Regions from separate parts of the Homo sapiens genome. Here all the other regions are linked to region 1. Evidence: fine-mapped expression QTL. A gene starts in region 1. Each other region holds a variant in brackets. All regions are shown on one strand. Distances are between the middles of the regions.

Region 1 (2,753 bases):
GCCTCCACCACATTAATATGGCAACAGGTTTAGAAATTATTTAAAACAAAAATTTCTAATGTTTACATATATTGTGTGATGTGTGTGTGTGTGTGTGTGTGTGTGTGTGTGTGTATCATTCCAAGGTACTGTTTCTAATTTTTTCCTGTAGGGAATGAATATTCAGTATTGCAGCTGCATTGGCTAGCTGGGGATTCTATTTACCACCACATTGTCCCGGACTGAATCTGGGGACAAAAAAACCACTTCGGGAACAAATTCTTGTCTTCAACAAAGAGCTGTCTTGAGTAGGCACAAAAGTAGCATTTGAGGGCCGGACGCGGTGGCTCAAGCCTGTAATCCCAGCACTTTGGGAGGCCGAGGCGGGCGGATCACGAGGTCAGGAGTTTGAGACCAGCCTGGCCAATATGGTGAAACCCTATCTCTACTAAAAACACAAAAATAGCCGGGCGTGGTGGTGGGCGCCTGTAATCCCAGCTACTCGCGAGGCTGAGGCAGGAGAATTGCTTGAACACGGGAGGCGGAAGTTGTATTGAGCCAGAGATCGCGCCATTGCACTGCAACCTGGGCGACCGAGTGAGACTCCGACTCAAAAAAAAAAAAAAGTAGCATTTGAGTACCTTTTTTTTCCTTTTCTTTTCTTTTTTTTTTAGAGGAAGGGCACCCAGGCTGGAGTGCAGTGGCACCATAATAGCTCACTGCACTCTGCAACTGCTGAGCTCAAGAGATTCTCCTCCATCAGCCTCCCTAGTAGCTGGAATTACTGGCGTGAGGCACCATGCCCGGCTTATTTTCTTATTTTTTTGTAGAGGTGGTTGGAGCGGGGGGACTGGGGAGGGTCTCGCTATGTTGCTCAGGCTCGTCTCGAACTCTTGCCCTGAAATGATCCGTCCTCGGCCTCGCAAAGCGCTGAGATTACAGGCGTGAGCCACGGCGCCCAGCCTTGAATAGTTTTTCACATGCATTGCACGTTATTTCCTTTTATTCTCTAGTTTTTGGGTCCAGTCTTAAACCTGGGAAGGGATTCATTTGGGGGGGTCACACCAGCGGGCATCCTGGCTCAGGCGGAACTCTGGCTCCAGACAGTGCGCCCAGGACCAAACGGTCAACCCCGGCCTACTCCCGCCCCTCCCAGATCCTCCCCTCCTCGGACGCTCCCGCGTCTTCCTCTCGCTCAGGCACTGAGGGGCGGGGAGATGGGTGTTAAAGAGGGGATATCACCAATCAACGTGCGCCTCCGGGAAACAGCGCTTCGCACTGGCTGGTTGGGTCTGACGACGTGGCCACTGTCCAATCCTCATGCTAGAGGCGGGGCTAAAGGCCAGTGGCGCAAGCAGAAGGAGGAGCGCAGCGGCTGCAAGCACGTGACCGGGGCCTGAAGCCGGAAGCTACCTATCTGGTAGGGAGCTCCCCCAGCACCGAAGACTGCGATGGTGAGTGAGGACGCATGCGCGAGAGGACCCGCCGGGGGTTCAGCGTCTCTGCTCCCCAGTCTGTGTGGTTTCCCCCTGGTGGGCCTGCGCTCCACCCTCACCTCCTATCCGCTCGGGGAGGAAGAGGGGATGGAAATGGGAGGGATGGCGACGAGAATGCTGGGGAGGGGTCTGTGGGAGGGTGTTCTGGGGCTGCGGGTAGTCTGCAGGTCGGGCGGAGACGAAGGGAGGTGAAGAGAGGGTCTGGGGGCAGGGGCCAGTGGGGCAGCAAAGGCCCCTTGGGGTAGCAAAGGTGGGATGTGGAAGGCCAGGGGAGCCCGGGGGCGAGAGTGGGGGCAGATGGAGGCTCGGGAAGATCAGTATTGAGGACCATGTAGGGGGGAGGGGGCCGGGAAGGGACCTGGCTGGGGAATGAGAAAACCTGGGGCCATCGTCAACCCAGAGACTTGGGTTTGCAGGTGAAGGGTATCGGGCCGTCCATCCCTCTAGCATGCTTCTCACGACTTGCATCTTTACCCACTAGACTTCTGCGCTGACCCAGGGGCTGGAGCGAATCCCAGACCAGCTCGGCTACCTGGTACTGAGTGAAGGTGCAGTGCTGGCGGTGCGTTCTGGGAAAGGGAGGGGGTCCCTTAGTGCACACAGCCCGGTAACCCCTTCTAATATTGGCCCTTCTTTTCTCGGCTTTTATCTGGTTTCCTGCCTGGCATCTATTAGGTTGGTACAAAAGTATTTGCAGTTTTTGCAATTACTTTCAGTAATCAGTCTGTGGAATCTTAGTCTCCTAACGGCTGCGATTTATTTATTTATAGTTTTTGAGACTGAGTTTCGTTCTTGTTGCCCAAGCTGGAGTGCAGTGGTGCGACCTCGGCTCACTGCAACCTCCGCCTCCGGGGTTCAAGCGATTCTCCTGCCTCAGCCTCCCGAGTAGCTGGGATTATAGGCACGTGCCACCATGCTCTGCTAATTTTTTGTATTTTTAGTAGAAACGGGGTTTCACCGTGTTAGCCAGGCTGGTCTCAAACTCCTGACCTCAGGTGATCCACCTGCCTCAGCCTCCCAAAGTGCTGGGATTACAGGCGTGAGCCAACATGCCTGGCCTTTATTTGGTATTTCTTAAAAAGGCATTTGTATTTTGTTCCATAGTACTGTATGGTGTTAGGTCTCTAGATTACAGGCGTGAGCCACCACGTCTGGCCTTTATTTGGTATTTCTTAAAGAGGCATTTGTATTTTGTTCCATAGTACTGTATAGTGTTAAGTCTCCAGATGTTTTTGACTTAGGTAGAGACAAAGCTTAAGGTTAAGGGTTGAAAACAAT
Region 2 (2,753 bases), 42 kb before region 1:
TGACTGTGATGCGGTACCAACTCTCCGATGACCTCCCCTCACCGCTCCCCTTCCGGCTCTTCCCCTCTGTGCAGTGGGACCGAGGCTCAGGCCGGTGAGACAATTTCCTGGGTTCTAGAACTACCTTGGAACCCAAGCCAAGACCTGTATGTTCCCAAGACTCACTGCAGAGTGGGGGTGGTGGTAGTGGTGATGGAGTGCAAATTGGAAAAAGGCTTGGGTTGCGGCCGGTGGCTCACACCTGTAATCCTAGCACTTTGGGAGGCTGAGGCGGGAGGATCACTTGAGCCCAGGAGTTCCAGACCAGCCTGGGCAACATAGTGAGACCCCATCTCTCTGAAAAAAAAAAAAAGGAAAAAGCTTTGGCTAATGGAGTTGGGCTGGGCTTCAGCCCTTTTCCCTCTTGGGAGTACAGCCCACACCCACACAGCCCCACATGGAGGTCCCTGGTGGGGAATGGTGAGATGCCAGTAGAAGATGGCCTGAGTCGTGGTGTTTTACCCTCTCATCCAGGCTCCAGGTTTATCTAAAGTTGCGATGTGACCTGCTCTCAAAGAGGTAAGAGTGAGGCTGGCCTGGCTGAGTTCAGCTCTATGGGACGGAAGACAGGGCCAGGGCACCTGCTGCTTCTCCCTTCAGATGCAGCTGCCAGCCTCAGAAGCCAGTTAAGGTAGAGGCTGTAGAATTTGGGAAGGTGGGGGGCACCTGTGCTGAAATCCTGTTATGACATTGAAGAGGAACAGGACAAGGGACTGTGCCTTCCTGGGGCTGACTTTGTTCCCGTCTCCTCTGTAGCCAAGCCCTCAATGTCAGGCTGCACCTCCCCCTGCCTCGAGGGGTGGTCAGGTGAGTGTGTGCACCCACCACGGGGAGATTCCTGGGGAGAGAGTGAGCTCAGCATGACGGGTCTGCCTCAAGAAGGTGCCAAGCCCAGCACCTTCCCTTTCCAAACTCCAGCCTGTCTCAGGAGCTGAGCAGCCCAGAGCAGAAGGCTGAGCTGGCAGAGGGAGCCCTTCGCTGGGACCTGCCTCGGGTGCAAGGAGGCTCTCAACTCTCAGGCCTTTTCCAGGTATTCGCTGTGGACCCCCAGCCCCTCTCCTCCCACATTCACTTGCAGCCCCCACCCCACCCTCCCGAAGCAGCTGCTGCCTGGTTCCCCCAGCGTGGTCAGCTTCTTGCCCTCCTTCCTCTCCCTGCCTCTGCCCCTCACAGATGGACGTCCCAGGGCCCCCAGGACCTCCCAGCCATGGGCTCTCCACCTCGGCCTCTCCTCTGGGGCTGGGCCCTGCCAGTCTCTCCTTCGAGCTTCCCCGGCACACGTGCTCTGGCCTCCAGGTCCGATTCCTCAGGCTGGCCTTCAGGCCATGCGGCAATGCCAA[C/T]CCCCACAAGTGGGTGCGACACCTAAGCCACAGCGACGCCTATGTCATTCGGATCTGAGGCTCCCCAAACGAGGACACGACGGCCAAGGTGGCAGTTTGTCCCACGGGAGGACAGTCGTTTCTTTTCCAGCCTCCTGGCCTTCGGACTCTGAATCTGGGCAGGAAGAGTCCTCAGTCCCAAGACCAGGAGGGGGCAATGGGCCCAGCCTTTCTGTGGTATCTGATGCAGGAAGGACTGCAGTGGATCAGAACTTACAAACCAAACTTTTATTCTGAGAAACTGGCTGTACAATATCTAAAAAGAAAGTGACATGAAGGAAGCAATCTACAACTTCCTTCCGCTTAGCGAGCATGCATGTGTGTACGTGCACGTGTGTACATGTCTGCATGTGTGGGAATCCGGGGGCTGGCAGGTGGAGCATCACGGAGCAGGCTGAGGGGAGCCGGAGTTGGGCTGGGAGCCATTGGCTTTTGGAGTCCCTGGAGCTGGAGGGGGACTGTCCCCAGCCTCCTGCTTCCCCCCACAAAGGGCACTGCCGCTGAGTGGGGACGGGGACGATGCCGGGGGAGGAACTGGAGAAGGATGGGAGGTGGGGCCTCCTTTGCCCTCCCCTGTTGGGGGAAGTGAGACCACGATGTACTTCTGGACACTCCCAGGACCAGAGGGAGCAGTGCTGGGGGGTGCGGTGGTGGCGGTGGAGACCAACTTGACGATGGGCTGCACGCTGGGGACGGTGGTGGTGACGGGCGAAGTGGTGGTGGAACCTGAGCCGGGGGCCGAGGTGCTGAGGGACAGGACCTGGATAGAAAGGAAAGGCAGGCCGCTTGCCCTGTGCCCTCCCTGCCCCCCAGAGGCCTGGCGAGGACGCTTCACTCGCTCCCTGCCTGAACAAGTTGTTCCTGTAGTTCACCCTGTAGACAGCTATGGCTGGAGACCTTGTTCATGCAGGGCAGCTACAGCCCTGCAGGACCCTGGTGGGCGCCTCTTCCAGCTCTTGACTTGGGGCCCAGAGGGGACTGTGCTCTACTCCTGGGCCTCCCCAGGGTGCTCTGAGGTAACCCAGGCCCTCCAGATGCTCCCTGTCCCACAGCTCTGCATACCTGCTGGGTGGATGGGGCGCTGGAGGACGATGACATTACAATAAACTTGGTTGGAGGAGGGGAAGGCTGTGGTGGGGCAGCCGCTCGTGCAGACACCAGTGTCTGGACAGGAAGTGCGATGGAGCCAGGAACCTTCAGCAAGCCAGGGGTGCGAGGGCCAGGCTGTGGGGCCTGCGAGAGGGTCAGCGTGGGCCGGGGCTGCGGGGAGAAGAGGAAAGGGGGAAGTGGCACCATCTACTAAGAAGAGGAGTCTGAAGGGAGAGGCCTGGGCTC
Region 3 (2,753 bases), 90 kb before region 1:
TTTCCTCCCCCAAGTAAGGCTGTCTTAACCTGGGCCCTAGCATGGGAATGGATCACTCTTAAAGGATCAGTTTCTCTTTGAAGTCTGAGTATTACAAATAATTTTTTTTAAAGGGTCAATTGAAATGAGTTTAAAAAAGAAACTGTTAACAGAGGTGTAGAGACTTCAAATGAACCAATAAGGAATAGTGTTGCACCAGACAACAGTGAAAAGCTGTTACTCCCTGTGAGCCTAAAGGGACAGAGGGGGACCCTCTTACCAGAATCAGGTAAGAGCTATAGTCATGGAGGAGGGGGTCACTTGATAGAAGTTGTGGCTGTAGGCCCTGCTGTGGGATGAGGAGAAAACGGAATAAATACCCCAACTGCACCCTCCTCCTGCCCTTAAATCTCCTGCTTTTGTTCCCCAATGACAAACTCAGTTGGCAGCCAGAGGGCAGGAAAGACAAGACAGTGCAGCCCTTAGGGTCAGCTTCCTGGGGCACAGGGCGGGTCAGAGAATGGATCTGAGAAGGGCAAATGGGAAATAATTGGCAACCTCCTTTCTGAAGCTATGGAAAGAGGTGGGGCATTTTTCACAAGTCAAAGCTGTATTAGGTGACTACTCCTGAGCTCAAATCTCCATATATTATGGTTTATAGAATAATCTCAGGCCATAAATGGTCATCCCCTGTGGGGGTGTTTTTGTGTGTTTTTCTGAGACAGGGATTCCATCCGTCATCCAGGCTGGAGGGCAGTGGCGTGATCATAGCTCACTGCAGCCTCAATCTCTGGGGCTCAAATGATCCTCCCACCTCAGCCTCCCAAGTAGCTGGGACCACCATGTCTGGCTAACTTTATTTTTTTGTACAGACAGGGTCTCACTATGTTGCCCAAGCTGGCCCTATGTTATTTTGTTATTTTATGGGTTCTACTCTTAAGTACCTTCATTTACCAGAAGGATTAGAACTAAATCTTTGAAACAGAGTTAATGTTTAATTATATGTTTGCAAAAATATGGCATATTATTCCAAATCCTAATAGTTTCAAACCAGGACTTTGCTTACGTGTTGGTGGTGTAGACCACTATTTATGTGTGTGGTGTGATTTCATGACAAGAGTCCATGGCCCTCAGAAATCTCCCTCCATGCTTGCTGTGTCTGAAACGTGAAACTCCATCATGGAAACAGAGTTTCGAGCCGGTTAAAAATCACATTTTCTAGGAAAAGTAAAAAATTAAACTGTTAGCTAAATTCTTCATGGTTTATGGTGAACACAGTAGACCTCTCCAGGCAATTGGGGTTTCCCCAGAGTTGCCACAGTAATTAGAGATAAAAATAGCCGGAGACCTATCTGGTCAGTTTTATTTTCCATATCTCTTGGTGTAGCCCCTTGGCAGTATTACACAAA[G/GA]AGGAGGGTGGAGTGGAAGGATTATCAGAGCCAGGAACAGGCTTGGGTTTTAGTACCCAGATGGGACAGAAGACAAAGCTGCTGGGCCCTCCTAAGGAAAGGGAAGTTGGCTGTGAAAGCTTTGCATAAAGTCTTTTTTTTTTTTTTTTTTTTGAGACGGAGTCTCCCTCTGTTGCTAGGCTGGAGTGCATTTATGCAATCTCGGCTCAGTGCAACCTCTGCCTCCCAGGTTCAAGAGATTCTCCTGCCTCAGCCTCCCGAGTAGCTGGAACTACAGGTGCACACCACCACGCCCAGCTCTTTTTAAAAAAACAGAGTTTCGGTCTTGTTGCCCAGGCTGGAGTGCAGTGGCGCTATATCGGCTCACCGCAACCTCCGCATTCCAGTTTCAAGTGATTCTCCTGCCTCAGCCTCCCGAGTAGCTGGGATTATAGGCTTCTGCTACCATGCTCGGCTAATTTTTGTATTTTTGGTAGAGACAGGGTTTCACCATGTTGGCCAGACTGGTCTCGAACTCCTGACCTCATGATCCGCCCTCCTCGGCCTCCCAAAGTGCTGGGATTACAGGCGTGAGCCACCACGCCCAGCCAAGAAACTGTTAATAAAAACACAAACAGGCACCTTTGACAGAAACAAAATAGAATTTCTAAAAGTGAAAACTGTAGTCATTGAAATGAAGAATGCAATGGCTGTTTTAAATAATGAAGGACATGATTAGCAAACAGAGGTAGATGGAAGGAAGTCATCTGAAATGCTACTTAGAAAGATCAAGGTGGCAGGCATTGGACATCAGTGTGGGATCAGATGAGAAGGTCCAGTGTATGTTTAATAGCTGTTCCAGAGGAGGCGGAAAGAGTTGGAGAGGGCAGACATGATGGCTCACACCGGTCATCCCAGCACTTTGGGAGGCCGAGGAGGGCGGATCATGAGGTCAGGAGATGGAGACCATCCTGGTCAACATGGTGAAACCCCATCTCTACTAAAAATACAAAAATTAGTTGGGCGTGGTGGCATGCACCTGTAGTCCCAGCTACTCAGGAGGCTGAGGCAGGAGAATCGCTTGAAGCCAGGAGGCGGAGATTGCAGTGAGCCAAGATCGCGCCATTGCACTCCAGCCTGGCAACAGAGTGAGATTCCATCTCAAAAAATAAAAAAAAAACCAGACTGGCTGGGCATGGTGGCTCACGCCTGTAATCCCAACACTTCGGGAGGCTGAGGCAGGCGGATCACCTGAGGTCAGGAGTTTGAGACCAGCCTGGCCAACATAGTGAAACTCCATCTCAACCGGGCATGGTGGCACGTGTTGTCCCTGGGACCTGTAGTCCCAGCTACTCGGGAGGCTGAGGCAGGGGAATCGCTTGAACT

Evidence for each region. PIP is the estimated chance that this variant, and not a neighbour inherited with it, causes the effect. A credible set is the group of variants that fine-mapping cannot tell apart.
Region 2: its variant is the best candidate, but not a certain one, in a credible set for the expression of LAMTOR4 in whole blood (TOPMed, PIP 0.88).
Region 3: its variant is the best candidate, but not a certain one, in a credible set for the expression of LAMTOR4 in monocytes (TOPMed, PIP 0.80).

What each region holds. Positions count from the first base shown.
Region 1 is chr7:100,147,543-100,150,295 of GRCh38, forward strand. It overlaps LAMTOR4 (late endosomal/lysosomal adaptor, MAPK and MTOR activator 4), which reads left to right and starts at 1,376. Exons shown (of 4, transcript NM_001008395.4): 1 at 1,376-1,433; 2 at 1,957-2,037. The coding sequence starts at 1,431. RefSeq lists enhancers at 379-991, 1,016-1,075, 1,346-1,455, 1,604-2,216 and silencers at 1,756-1,845, 1,856-1,945.
Region 2 is chr7:100,105,446-100,108,198 of GRCh38, forward strand. It overlaps AP4M1 (adaptor related protein complex 4 subunit mu 1), which reads left to right. Exons shown (of 15, transcript NM_004722.4): 11 at 1-94; 12 at 514-558; 13 at 796-846; 14 at 958-1,069; 15 at 1,213-2,753. The coding sequence ends at 1,437. TAF6 (TATA-box binding protein associated factor 6) reads right to left here. Exons shown (of 15, transcript NM_139315.3): 14 at 2,481-2,678; 15 at 1,625-2,178. The coding sequence ends at 1,801. Among named protein-coding and RNA genes, the nearest start is that of AP4M1, 5.2 kb to the left of the region's middle. RefSeq lists an enhancer at 1,902-2,402. The variant C/T (reference allele first, on the strand shown) is at 1,380.
Region 3 is chr7:100,058,031-100,060,783 of GRCh38, forward strand. All of the region lies in intron 3 of ZSCAN21 (zinc finger and SCAN domain containing 21), which reads left to right. Among named protein-coding and RNA genes, the nearest start is that of ZSCAN21, 9.6 kb to the left of the region's middle. RefSeq lists an enhancer at 1,330-1,449. The variant G/GA (reference allele first, on the strand shown) is at 1,389.